Homo sapiens: one gene and its partner. The protein of the gene in region 2 interacts with the protein of the main gene of each other region in a pairwise test. Each region holds a gene or a part of one and is shown on either strand. Other genes may lie near its edges.

Region 1 (7,023 bases), on a different chromosome or scaffold from region 2:
ACCTGCCACTGTCAGAGCCCTGGTCTCCCTGTCTGGGGCCAGGACCCGCGTTTGGGGATGTGCTTTAAGGGAGATGCCAACTGAAGTATTTTTGTCTTGCTAGCTCCGTTGCTAAGCAACCACTGAGCGGCAGCAACAGCTGGGGGAGAGTGGCTGGGATGGGAGGCCTGGGGACCACCCTCAAACCTGTCTGTTGCACACACCTCTCCAGTGCAGGCAGGGTTGGGGGGGGGTTGGAAAGCTGCAGAGGGAGGAGGGGTGGCTCAGTGTTGGGGGTCCTTCTGAGCCAGGAGCCTCCCCTCTTACTGCCCTTCTCCCGTTACAGAGGCTGTGATCAATAGCCAGGAATGGACTTTGAGCCGCTCCATTCCTGAACTGCGCCTGGTAGGTAACCCAGTCCCCTTGCCTATAGGGAAGGCTGACCTCCCACCCACTGCACTCTCAGCTCTCTCCCTTCACCTCTCCTTCTCTCTCTCTCTCTCTTTGGGAATAGGGAATCGTTTTCCAGTTCTCCTGAGAGTCTGCCTTCATAGCACCAACATGGGGTTTGCTACAGCCTCCTCACAAGTTTTTCCTATCTAGTCTTTATGCAGCCATCCCCTTTTTCCTGTTTGTTCATGGTCCTCCTCCAGGCTTCTCATTTCTGGTATCTGCCCTTTGGCCTTCATGTTGTACTGCCTAGAATTGGGTAAAGTTTTCCAACTAGTGCCTAGAGCTGTGACATGCTACAAACACACACACACAGAGACACACACACACAACATATCTAGTATGTTTTCTAAACAACCCAACACACAAAAAAGCTGGTACTGAATTGCTGACATTCTTCAGCTCGTGCTCCACTTTGAGCTTGGGATCATTTCTTACCACACTCATGCCCTGATCCTCCCAACTGCTCTGATCCCCCCAGCTGCTCTGATCCTCCCAACTGCTCTCTCTGGAATGACTGTCATCCAGGCCCTGTAGGGTCCTGCTTGGATGACTTATCTCTCTGGGTTTTCTGGAGTGTCCAGACCCATGCATCCTGCCTTCTCTTATATCCCACAATTTCTGCTCCACAACCTTGCCCTCAGGGTGTGCTGGGCGATGCCAGGAGTGGGAAGTCATCGCTCATCCACCGATTCCTGACTGGCTCATACCAGGTGCTGGAGAAGACAGAGAGTGAGTTCTGAAGAGCCATAGTAAGCTAACCATTGGGGTCAGGGATCCAGGAGTGAGATCAATGATTAGGCAGGTGTGGAGACCAGGGGGGAAGGATGAGGCCATAATAGCAAAAGCACTGGGAGCATGGGGAGGTTTGGTGACCTGTCACCTCTGACCTGTTACCCCTTCCAACTCTTCTGGACAGGTGAGCAGTACAAGAAAGAAATGTTGGTGGATGGACAGACACATCTGGTGCTAATCCGAGAGGAAGCTGGGGCACCTGATGCCAAGGTGAGGGTGGAGGTGGTGGGGGACAGGCTGGCTGGGGTCAGCACTGGCCAAAGGAGAGGGCTCTGGTTTCCCAGGTCTTCATCTGGATTGGGTCCAGAGGAGTAGACCTGTCTGACTTTCCATTTGCTCCCTCACTCCCCGCAAGTTCTCAGGCTGGGCAGATGCTGTGATCTTCGTCTTCAGCCTGGAGGATGAGAACAGTTTCCAGGCTGTGAGCCGTCTCCATGGGCAGCTGAGTTCCCTTCGCGGGGAGGGACGAGGAGGCCTGGCCTTGGCACTGGTGGGGACACAAGGTAAGGAGGGGTTAGGAAAGCACTGCTTTCAAGGGAGGCCCTAAGGAGGCTACTGGGATATTGCCCAACATGGGTGAGAACTTGGTAAGGTGTGGAAATGGCCACTTGGATTATAGTACCCTTCTGGAGGGAGCCTGGTCTCCAAATAAGGGAGTCATGAAACCAAACAATAACTTCCCAAGGTCTGAGCAGAGAAAAGGGGATCTCCAGGGAGGAAAGGACAGCTATAGTAGCCATCTCCTTGCCTCTCCTGAAATGTCACCTACCTTGTGTTCTGACACTGCCATTTCCTAGTGCCACCATCCTAGGACACAGAAAATCTCAAGTCCTAGGGTGGATAGGAAACCTTTTCCATCTTCCTTTTTGCGACAGCTGGGTAAGGCTGACACCTTTTAAAGGAACTTATCCAAAAACAAAGTGAAAACACAAAGGAAATGATGATGAAAAGAAGAGAGCAGAAAACCTTTTAGTTCTCAGAGAAGTGACTCAGAGGCTCCCAGACTCTGCCAGGGCCAGGAAATGCTTTTCCAGCACTCCCCTGTGTCGAGCTGGTGGGACTTGGTCTGGATGCCTGTTCTGCTGGTGCCTATCTCCACCTGTTGCTTGCATCCTGGTTTCTTGCTGCAGAGTGGGCAGTCCAGCCATGACCCATGGGCACCCAACCTTTTCCTAGTTCACAAGCTGGTGTCCTCCCACCAGTTCAGGGTTCTATGGATTTGCAGGGCAGGGTGATTGTCGCTCGCGCCTGGGTCTCAGCTATGTAGACCTTGTCAGGAAGCACCACTCAGCAGCTCTGGAGTATTCCTTGAGGACACACACACACACACACACACACACACAGCTCACCCAGCTAGGTGTGTGAACTGGGCCCAGTACTCAGAAAGGGCTTATGTACTCCCATTCCACCTGGTCACAGAAAAGATGATCTCTCACACCCCATCCCCAGTGGACCCAGCCTGAGGGCCCAGTGCAAGGATAAGGGAATTGTGAAAAATCGAACAAGGTGGGGCTCCTTGTTCAATCCTGCCCCTTTCCTGTCCCCTCAGACAGGATCAGTGCTTCCTCCCCTCGGGTGGTGGGAGATGCTCGTGCCAGAGCTCTGTGCGCGGACATGAAACGCTGCAGCTACTATGAGACTTGTGCAACCTATGGGCTCAATGTGGATCGGGTCTTCCAGGAGGGTGAGTGTAGTGATCTCCAGCATATGTGGGAAGCCAGAGCAAGGGGCCTGGGATATTCTCAGTGGTCAGGCATCCAGGCCTCTCTCTGTGAGTGACAGGAAATTAGCCTTTGTGGGAGGGAGGAGAGATCAGGGAGGCCAGAGAAGGTTTGCTTAATAGTCGCAAGGTCTTTCTGGGCTGGAGGAGCTGGCAAGGCCACAGGTGGCATGGAGGCCACAGTGACAAGGAAGTTGGGTCCTGTGTTGTCTACTGGGGATTTCTCAAAGCTGGGCATGGAAGGGTGGTCTTGGGTATCTGGCCTGCTCACACCTCCTTCCGTCAACTCCCCTCAGTGGCCCAGAAGGTGGTGACCTTGCGCAAGCAGCAACAGCTTCTGGCTGCCTGCAAGTCCCTGCCCAGCTCCCCAAGCCACTCAGCTGCATCCACTCCGGTAGCTGGCCAGGTGAGTTGGGGTTTCAGAGTCTGCAGAGGGGCCGGTAAGATGCAGAGGGGCTGGGGATCCTAGGACAGGTACAGAGTACCCAAGGAGGTTCAGGGAGTGGGGAAACAGATGGAAATGGCAGTGAAACTATTGGCAGAAAGTGCATTGGACTGGAAATCAACCAGATTTGAGACATCATTTGCAGTGTCCTTAAGCAACTCACCTAACCTCCCAAGGCTATCAGGAAGATTGTATGACACAATACTTGTGAATCAACCTTTACAACATTTAAAGCATTGTCACAATGTTAGTGAGGATTTTAAAAATTATTAATGACAACATAAATAAATGGTGAGGTGATCAAGGAATGTCTCAAATTCCCCATAACGAGATATGAGTGTAGCTTGGTGGAGTAGGGGGCATCTCAGCTCTGCTGACTCTTCCATATGTGCCCAGGCTAGTAACGGGGGCCACACTAGCGACTACTCTTCTTCCCTCCCGTCCTCACCGAATGTTGGTCACCGGGAGCTCCGAGCCGAGGCAGCTGCAGTGGCTGGATTGAGCACCCCAGGGTCCCTGCACCGGGCAGCCAAGCGCAGGACCAGCCTTTTTGCGGTATTGGACATGGACATGCTGACCCCCATCCTCCTGTCCCCCATGACCTGCCCATCTTCCCTAGTCCCTAGACTCCTCTGTTGGGCCCTTCTTCATCTATCTTCCCTATCGTCACATCAGTGTATCCCTCTATCCATCCTCAAACTGATTCCAATAACCATTCCAGAATCGTCGGGGTAGTGACTCCGAGAAACGAAGCTTGGATAGTCGGGGAGAGACAACAGGGAGTGGGCGAGCCATCCCCATCAAACAGGTGAGTGATCCAGGGGCTGGGACAGGCTAGGGGCAGCTGGTCTTAGTTGGCTTTTTTCCCACATGTGTCTTTCCCCTTTCTCCAGAGCTTCCTACTAAAACGAAGTGGCAATTCCTTGAACAAAGAATGGAAGAAGAAATATGTAACCCTGTCCAGTAATGGCTTTCTACTCTACCACCCCAGTATTAACGTGAGTGGCAGAGACTGGGCCACATTGGCCAGCTTTGGATTTCCCTCAAGTTCTACCTGTCTATGCCTCTGACAAAGCACTAACCTCATTTCTAGGAAGTGCTAGTCCTCTTCTCTTAAGTTTAGCAGGCATGTGTTAAGAGCCCACCATGTGCCCATGCCAGGAATGTAAAGGTAAATACATTGCCCCAGGAACTTGCAGTCTAGTGGGAGAGCACCCAGGAAGGGAACGCTTTCTGGAGGAGACAATTGCTGGGCCAAGTCTGATGGGCCCATCCCCTAGATGTTCATCACAACCCATTTGGCCCCCAAGACCCCTCCCCAGTCCCTCTCTATTCTGTACCATGTTGACTGCTTCCCAGCATACCAAGGACCCCAACCTTCCCTACACTCTCGGCCCTGTACCCCTCCAGGATTACATCCACAGTACCCACGGCAAGGAGATGGACTTGCTGCGAACAACAGTCAAAGTCCCGGGCAAGCGGCCCCCGAGGGCCATCTCTGCCTTTGGCCCCTCAGCCAGCATTAACGGGCTCGTCAAGGACATGAGCACTGTCCAGATGGGTGAAGGCCTGGGTGAGTAAGGTTTATGACATAGGAGCAGAAGAGGGGCCAGGGCTGGGGAAAAAGAGGGGTAAGAGGGAAGAGGGGGCTGGCACTGGGCGAGTAGGAAGCTGGGTGATAAAGAGGGACCACATAAGGAATGGGGCCAGAAGAAAGAGGCTCACTGAGGTTTCATCTTCTTCCGACAGAAGCCACTACTCCCATGCCAAGCCCTAGCCCCAGCCCCAGTTCCCTGCAGCCACCACCAGATCAGACATCCAAACACCTGCTGAAGCCAGACCGGAATTTGGCCCGAGCCCTCAGCACGGGTCAGTGGGGATGACCTTCCATCTGCTGTCTTCCACACCCAAATAGGATGAGTGTGGGAAATGAATATGGGGTGAAGGCTTGGAGGCTGGAATAAATGCATGAGTGAACACATGGAGCCCCACACATGAATAAGTTCAATCATACCATGTCTATCATAATGGTTAAGACAAGTGGACTCTAACGTCAACTGCCTGAGCTTGAATCCTGGCTTGCCACATGGGCAAGTTACTTGACCTCTCCGTGCCTCAGTTTCCTCATCTGTAACATGGAGATAATAGTTTCTACCTCAGAGGGTTGCTTTGAGGTTTAAACAAACTGAGAATATTGTCTAGTACATAGTCAGCCATGTTTGACATGTTTGAAAAAAAATATATATATATAGTATGCAAATAACATTGTAAACAAATGATCCTTACAACAGTTTTGTCAGGTCAAGATTATTACCCCTATTTCAGAGATAAAGAAACTGAGGCTCAGAAGATTAAGTGCCTTGCTCAAGGTCTTAAGGCCAGTAAGTGGCAGAACCAGGATCTGAGTGCAGGACTGACTCTAAACCTCTCATCTCCCTGCATCCCCAGGAATGATCAAGGGGGAACTCCTGGAGAGGGACAGTTGAGGAGGGGAGCCCTAAAATGCCAAAGCTAGTTCAGGGAATGAGACAGGCTATCAAGAAATCAGGAAATCTGTGGAGGGGGCTACTGAGGCAGCTGTGTCTTCCTCCCTAAGACTGTACCCCATCTGGAGACCTGAGCCCCCTGAGTCGGGAACCCCCTCCTTCTCCCATGGTGAAGAAGCAGAGGAGGAAAAAATTGACAACACCATCCAAGACTGAAGGCTCGGCTGGGCAGGCTGAAGGTGAGGCTCTGGCAGGCACTTCCACTCCCACCCAGAACCCTCATCCCCAACATCAGCTCCCTGGCCTAACTCCTGCAGCAGGAGGAAAAGTGCCTGAGCTGAGTGCTTGACTACCATTACCACTGCACACAACTTAGTGAAAGAGTGGATGGACATCCCCCAGCCCCTGTCCTTCTTTCCTTGTTCCCCAGCTAATTCCTTTCCCCAGCCCCTGTTCTCAACGATGTCCATGTCTATAGCTCCTGCTCCCTCTCCTAATGACGTTCTAGTTCCTCTTCCTTCCCTCAACTCCACTTACCACCCCAGCCCCTGCACCCGGCAGCCCCGCTGATCCCCAGTGATTCAGCCCCTTATCTCAGCATCTCCCACTGATTCCCCAGATCCTGGATTCTGTGACCACCCAGCCCCTTCTCCCAATAACTTTCTTTCTTTTTTTTTTCTTTTCTTTTTTTTTTTTTTTTTTGAGATGGAGTCTCACTCTGTCACCCAGGCTGGAGTACAGTGGTGCGATCTCGGCTCACTGCAAGCTCTGCCTCCCGGGTTCACACCATTCTCCTGCCTCAGCCTTCCAAGTAGCTGGGACTACAGGCACTTGCCACCATGCCCGGCTAATTTTTTGTATTTTTTAGTAGAGACTGGGTTTCACTGTGTTAGCCAGGATGGTCTTGATCTCCTGACCTCGTGATCTGCCCGCCTCGGCCTCCCAAAGTGCTGGGATTACAGGCGGTGGGGATTACAGGCATGAGTCACCGTGCCCGGCCTTCTCCCGATAACTTTCTATTGCCAAGTGCTCCCCAACAGCCCTTGACCATAGTGATCCCCATTCTTGTCCCTCAGTGATTCCCCGCACCCCCACCGCCACCAGCCCCAGGGCCCTCTCATCTCAGCCCTGCGCCCCAGCTTCTGTCC
Region 2 (7,023 bases):
CGGAAGCAGGCTGCTGGAGGAGGTGATCCAGAGAGCCTGACTCCAAGGAACAGGGACACCTGGGGACAAGGCATGCTGAGGGGTGGAACAGAGCTGTCTGCAGGCCTGGGAGGCCCTGCGCTCTATTGCAGGATGCGGAGGCAGGGCTGTCATCGGACGTGGAGGGAGCGTGTTGGTGTCAGACTCAGGAGGGAAGGATGACTGGGGAGGCACCAGCCCCTCCCTGGCCAGCCCTCAGGGGTCCCCATCACTCCTAGGACATTTCCCCGACTCCCTAGCATGGCACTCAAGGCTCCTGATGGCCTTCACTCAACCTCCCACCTGGCCTTATTACCCATTACTTTGCTTCACACTCTGCCTCCTCCGGACCCTACTGTTCGCCACAAGCTCCCTGCACATTTCTACCCCAGGGCCTTTGCTCAAGCTGTTCTCTCTCCCCATAGTGCTTTTTCTCCCCACATCCACCTGTCTAAAGCCTCCAGGCGCAGCTCCAGTGCCCCCTCCTCCGGGAAGCCTTTCTGATCTACCACGAAGGGGTCTCCACTCCCCAGAGTGACTTTATCTGATCTCTCCCATGACTATGAGCCTGTGGAGGGCAGGGAGCCATGGCCAGCTCTTTGTGGGTCTCCCATTATCTCAGCACAGTGTCTTCTACATGGTATGACACATGCATTACCTTACACACAACACATGTGTTTTGAGTTGACCTGACTTGGACATCGTGGGAAGGACCACAGGAAGATCGATCATAGCCACCATCTAGCAAAGGCCTGCCACATGCTGGCCCCTGCGCAAGATGTCACACATGTGTGATCTCATTTGATCCCCCTGGGAGATGGCTATTAGCATGCACAGGACACCCATGGGGAAGCTGAGCCTCACAGCCACTAAGAGGCTTGCCTCCCAGGCTTACACGGTCCTGTCCAGCTTCAGAGCCAAGGTCCATGCAGAACCTCGCGGGGGCCCTCATTTCTTGATCTTAATGAACCCCCCTTTCAGGGGCAGGGATCAGGCTCTCCTAGGAAGAGGAGGGCAGGCAGAAGGGAGAAGAGAGCCTGGAGCCGAGATGCTTCCAACCCACCCCAGAGGATTCCTCACTACCCAACCCCCAACCCCAGACTTGGGTGGGCTGGGCTCTCTCTGCTGCTGTCTCTCCCCGGGACACTCTGCTCAGCTGCCTTAGATGCCCTGGCCCAGGCTAGAGGAAGGCAGGCAGCCAGGAGAGGGCAGGGAAACCCTAGCAGAGAGCCTAGAAAGCCGCTTTTGCCCCAGCTCGGTCCTGATGCTGGTGAGTGCCCCTCTCTGGTCCTGTCCTTATATACAAAATGGGAACAAGGATTCCTGCCCACTCACCATCAACTATCAAACGTTTATCAGGTGCCTCTAAGTGCCAAGGGAGGGCTGGCTGCAAACCTGAGCAGGGAGGGAGAATTAGGTGAGGCAGCTCCTGCTCAAGGCCATGGTCACCAGCAGTGTGTTGTCACTGCCTCTGTCCCTGGGTCTCTGGATGCTGGCTTGAGACCTTGTCCCGCCTTTGTGCATCTTGGCTGAGTTGAAGGACCCACTTGCTGAAGGACCTTGGACCAATCACTTCCCCTCTCTGAGCCTCAATCTCCTTTTCTATAAGAGGTAGAGGCTTGGAAGTCCCAAGCTCCTTCCCCAGGCACCTCCCTTGTACGTTGAGATGGATGGCTGAGGCTGCTGAGGCCAGGTTATGGCCAGGTGCTCTCAGCAGCCTGGAGGTCCCTGATCCCTGGTGGCCCCTAGTGGACTTTGTTGTCCTGGACAACATCACAGAAGCTGGAGAAATAGGCCCGACCAGATCTACCTTCCCAAGTCTCTCCGAAGGATTGGGTGAAGGTATCCCAGTAGGGCCAGCTCTATGCGTGTGGCCACCTATCCAATTGCACAGGGCCCCATGCTCAGAAGGGTCCTGCACCTTGTTTAATACTCTGATGTCTACATCTTGAAATTCTTAATCATTTTTGAGCATGGGCCCTGTACTTCCATTTTGCACTGGGTCTTGCAAGTTCTGTGGTGAATCCTGCCTCACACCCTCATATGGCTTCAGGCACAAAGTTTCTCAGCCCCAGACGAGACCCCAGAGCGGGATCCTGCTACTGCCAATGCCTGTGCCCCTGTGAAGGGAGGGTAAAATAGTCACACTGGGCCCTTGACATTGGAGGGGGAAGAGGGAGAGAAGGTGGGTTGGGAAAAACAGGCAGCCCCAAATCTCTGGCACCTGAGATTAAGGTGGAGAGAGCTTCTGGGCTGAGGATGGTAGGTTTGCTGGGGGTTGGGGAGGCCCCTGCTGCAGATACAAGATCAGATAAGCCTGAGAGCTGGCTCCCCATGCTGCCAGCCATGAGGGGTTAACAGCAAAGGGATGGACCTGAACCTTCGGAACTGACACCTTCCTGAGCAGCCAATCAGTTGCCAGGACTCGTGGGGCTGCACCGTGATTGGCTCTTGCCGCCTGCTCTGTTGTATAGACCCTATATTGGAGCCGGCAGGGCCCTGTGAGTTCTTTGCATCAAATCCCCCGTTTCGCAGATGGGGAGCCTGAGTCTGCTCTGTGGATGGCCCCGTGCTAGGTGTTGGGGATACAGAAACATGGCAGGAAGACAGTGCCCTCGTGTGCCTGTGGCATAGAGGGGCGCCCCCTTACACCTCACCTCGTTAGAACCAAGCTCGACGGAAGCCCTGGTGAGCTTTTAAAACTGAAAGTTAGGCTGGGCGCCGTGGCTCATGCCTGTAATCCCAGCACTTTGGGAGGCTGAGGCAGGCAGATCGCTTGAGCCCATGAGTTCGAGACCAGCCTGGGCAACATGGAGCAGAAACCCCATCTCTACAAAAAATACAAAAATTAGCCGGGCATGGTGGTGCATGCCTGTAGTCCCAGCGACTCGGGAGACTGAGGTGGGAGGATCGCTTGAGCCTAGGAGGGTGCGGCTGCATTGAGCTGTGATTGTGCTACTGCACTCCAGCCTGGGCAACAAAGTGAGACCCTGTCTCAAAAAATAAAATAAAATAAAAAGAGCCTCCCAAAAAACAACTGAAAGTTAACCTGGCCTAAATCTCTCCTGTGGCTCCCTTCACACTTAAAACTCATCTTAATGCGCAAACCGTGAACAACAGCCCCCGTCTCCCCAGCCTCATTTACCACACCCCTTACCCACTTCACTCCAAGTACACAGACTGCCTTGATGATCTCTGCCTCCCCCGAACCTCTTCACTCCCCTTTATGACACCCAGAACCCTCCCTGCTTCCTGTCATTCAGTTCCCTGCTTAAACATCGCCTCCTTGACCCCCTGTCTACAGCAGCCCCCCGTCTCCAACCTGCCCTCTCCATCCCACCACCCTGCTTGGCTGTCTTCATAGGCCCCCCGACAGCCCGACTTCATCTTGCTGCTCCTTTGCTGCCACTCCTCCTCTTGGATGGAAGCTCCCTGAGGACGGGGCCCTTATCTGCCTCACTCCCTGCCATCGCGCCAGTTTCTAGAACAGAGCTGAGCCCATTCCTGTTGCTCCGTCATGACTGCCTCCCCGACCCCGGGGAGGAAGGCAGGGCTCAGCTCTGCATGGAAGAATGTGTGCTGCTAATTGAGGTTGAATCATTTGGCACTTAATTTTCACTTTCATTTGAAATCCTCTCTTCGGTAAACTGGCGAATCCAGCCTGGGATTCCAGTGGACAGGATGACATCAGCCTCCCTAGCTGTGTGCGCCAGGCCCCACCAGGTTCTGCCTGGCCTCTCGGCAGCCCCATCCCTGCTCCTGCCGCTGTGTGTGTGGGTGCCTCATGATGTCCAGTGGCTCAAGCCTCTGCCTTAGCTCAGGCACCCCTTCTGTTGGGTATTCTGTTCCCTCCTGCTCCACCTCTCCCTGCCCCGTGACACCTCCAGCTGCCTTCATCTTTCAACCAATAGCACGGTAAGGGCCTCCCCTCCTGGCTGATGTGCCAGTTTCCCCCTCTGTTCCCCTCTGGCCCCTCCCTAAGACTTCTCCAAGAGGGTCCCTCCCTCCCTCCCTCCTTCCCTCCCTCCCTTCCTCCCTCCCTTCCTCCCTTCCTTCCTTCCTTCCTGACGGAGTCTCGCTGTGTCACCAGGCTGGAGTGCAGTGGTGCGATCTCGGCTCACTGCAACCTCTGCCTCCCGGGTTCAAGCGATTCTGCTGCCTCAGCCTCCCAAGTAGCTGGGACTACAGGCATGCACCACCACACCCAGCTAAGTTTTGTATTTTTGGTAGAGACAGGGTTTCACCATGTTGGCCAGGATGGTCTCGATCTCTTGACCTGGTGATCCACCTGCCTCAGCCTCCCAAAGTGCTGGGATTACAGGCGTGAGCCACCGTGCCCAGCTGGGACCTTTTATAAATGCAAATCTGATCTCATCACCTCTGCCTGGCTTGGCCCCTTGCTGGTTCCCCATTGCCCTGAGAACCAAGACCTGACTGGTCCGTGCCCCTATGACATCAATCCTTTCTCACCCCCAAGTCACTAGCCATGCGTGCCCTGTGGTCTCTGGGTTCCTTGAATGCACCATCCTTCCTCCGTGGGGGTGGGCTTCGGTGGTGGTCAGGTGATACCTGGGTGCTGGGGCCCCTTCCACCTGCCCCATTCCCCTCCTCCACTCCATTCTAGGGCCAGGCCTCAGAGTTCTACAGGCACTAGATGAAAACATGGTCTCTGCTCTCTCCAACTCCATTTCCAGCCATGAAATAGCAGCGATGCTTACCATGTGGGCCTTTCTGAATTGGGTAACAGGATCTAGCCTTGCTCTGCCACCCACTGGCTGGGAGATCTTGGGCAAGTCCCTTCCTCTCTGTAAGCCTCAATTTCTTCATCCGGAAAATGGGGTGAGGGTTGCCCATGGTGGTCTGTGCATAAGGTTCCTCTCTGGTCCTGGCTGCCTGTGGGTCTCTTAAGTAAGGGGGACCCTCAGGGGTGTCACACCATTGACACATTCCTGCACCTGTCCCTCTGGTCCTCTGGGGAGGGGCCCTGTGGCAGGGGCATTTGGGGACATGGAAAATGAGACTGCTTAGCTTCTCAGCATCTCCCAGTGGGGTGGCTTGAACATCCTCTGTTTTTTTGGATTCTCCTAATGGCTCCAAGAAATAGGTATTTTCCCCTCCACATTAAAGAGATTGAGGCTCAGAGAAGTTAGGTCACTCACCCAGGGTCACACAGCCAGGATGTCCTGGCTTCCCAAGGAACTCTGTGTTCCCGCCCAACAAGAAAGGTCCTTGACCTCTTCAGGCCTCAGTTTCCTCATCTGTCTAATGGGGGTAACTTAAGATCCTTTTGTCTTGGATCACATGAGACTTCAAGACCTAACATACAAAGACCCTCAGCCCCCTGCCTGGCCTCAGAGAAGGTGGCTGTTGCTTCTCAAGGTCCCAGCTCTTTCCCCATCACCGTGGCCCTGAGATTCCAGGGATGACCCAGAGGAGACAGGTGAATCTTGTGGGGCTTCTTGGCACTAGCACTGTGGCTGGACATTAGAGGAGAGAGTGTCCAAGCATTTCCCAAAAGTGTGTTTCTGGTCAAAACTGGAAAAACAACACAGGTGTGGCTTTTCCCATCATGCCTCACTGTGTCTCCCTGGACAGCGCCTTCTTCCTGAAATCCCACAGCAGTGTAGGTGGTACCCAGAGTAGGTGCACGCCAGCACCTGCTGTGCACCAGACCGCGGGCTGGCCCCAGGGTGCAGCGGCAAACAAATGAGGCTTAGTGCCTGCCACCTGGGATGCTGAGTTCCCCAAGGAGTGCTGGTTTAGGTGGGGTGGTAGCCCCGACATGGCTGGAAGTCAGGAAAGGCTTCTTGGAGGAGGTGACATTGAGCAGGGGCTGGAGGGATGAGTAAAAGTCAGCCAGCCTGGCAGTGGGGAGGAAGAGAAGGGAGAGAGGAAGGAGAGTGGGAAGTCAGGGGCCACTGTTTGCAGGCACTTTCCAGACAGGCGGGAACAGGGCCGTTTGAGGAACTGAGAGGTAACCAGGAATTCTGTCCAGGGCTGGACAGGCAAAGTGTATTAAAAAGGCTGGGCTGCCCACTTTTTGGGGGTGTGGGGGACTCCTCTCAGGAGAGGTGTCTTTTGTGTTACTCTGAAGTGTTAGCGCTTCTGCAGCCTAACATTGAGTAGCGTTCTCTGAGGACTTCCTGGAGGAGGTGGTTTAATTCCCTTCCACCTGCATTCACTGGGTGACAGGCCTGAGACTGTGGAGAATAAGCAGGCATCGGCCTGGCCCACACAGAACCCACAGCCCTTGAAGGGGTGGAGACTCACCAAGTGCCTGCTCGTGGTCCAGGCAAAGTAGTCACCTGAGAGAGGGAACCATGGGCTCTTTACAGGTAGAGGACGACGAAGCTCCGCCAGAGAGGAGGACTTGTCTGGGCAGGGTTTTGAAGCATGAATAGAAGTTGGGAGTGAAATGGGGCTGGAAGCGTATTCCAGAGGGAGATACAGACAGGATCAAAGGCTTGGAGGGCTGGGCAGCCTGGAGGGTGTGGGGGCCAGAGACCAGGTTGGTGAGAACATATGGACAGCTAAGGTGGGAAGGACATTCTGGGCAGGGGCTTTGTGTGGACCAGCACAGGGAGGTGGGCAGTGTGAGCCTTTCCCGGGAAACGGCTTGGCTGGTGTGCGAGGGGAGGAGTAGGAGGAGAAGTCAGAGGAGCCGGAGGTCTCAGTGGACCAGGTCAGGGCCTGTGTGGGGGACCACAGCGGGAAAAGTGACAGTGATTCCCTAACCCTCAGGGGCAGGCGGTGAGGGCATTCCCGGAGGCACAGCTGTGGCCTGGGGCAGTGAGCACTGGTCGTGGTCACTGGTTTCTGGTTTCTTACCTAGTTGGGTCACTCACTGGCTGTGTGGCCTTGGGCAAGTCACTGCATCTCTCTGAGCCAAGTTTTCCCTTCCACAGCGTGGGTAGCCAGCACCTTCCTCGCGGGGATGTGTGTAGCAAGAACTGGCTTGCAAAACCTCCCCTATTCCGAGCTTGGAGCCCTGGGATGGCCCTCCCA

What was found. Proteins that work in one complex are often made in the same cells at the same time.
Region 1: the proteins of RAC2 (region 2) and AGAP2 interact in a two-hybrid assay, tested with the Homo sapiens proteins (one study listed by BioGRID).

Annotation. Positions count from the first base shown.
Region 1 is NC_000012.12:57,728,730-57,735,752, reverse strand, and holds part of AGAP2 (arf-GAP with GTPase, ANK repeat and PH domain-containing protein 2), read left to right. Parts: intron 1-325; coding exon 326-384; intron 385-1,073; coding exon 1,074-1,161; intron 1,162-1,348; coding exon 1,349-1,434; intron 1,435-1,579; coding exon 1,580-1,727; intron 1,728-2,773; coding exon 2,774-2,908; intron 2,909-3,240; coding exon 3,241-3,350; intron 3,351-3,785; coding exon 3,786-3,944; intron 3,945-4,110; coding exon 4,111-4,197; intron 4,198-4,282; coding exon 4,283-4,387; intron 4,388-4,799; coding exon 4,800-4,962; intron 4,963-5,138; coding exon 5,139-5,258; intron 5,259-5,985; coding exon 5,986-6,114; intron 6,115-7,023. UniProt on the Homo sapiens protein: GTPase-activating protein (GAP) for ARF1 and ARF5, which also shows strong GTPase activity. Isoform 1 participates in the prevention of neuronal apoptosis by enhancing PI3 kinase activity.
Region 2 is NC_000022.11:37,234,247-37,241,269, reverse strand, and holds part of RAC2 (ras-related C3 botulinum toxin substrate 2), read left to right. Parts: intron 1-7,023. UniProt on the Homo sapiens protein: Plasma membrane-associated small GTPase which cycles between an active GTP-bound and inactive GDP-bound state.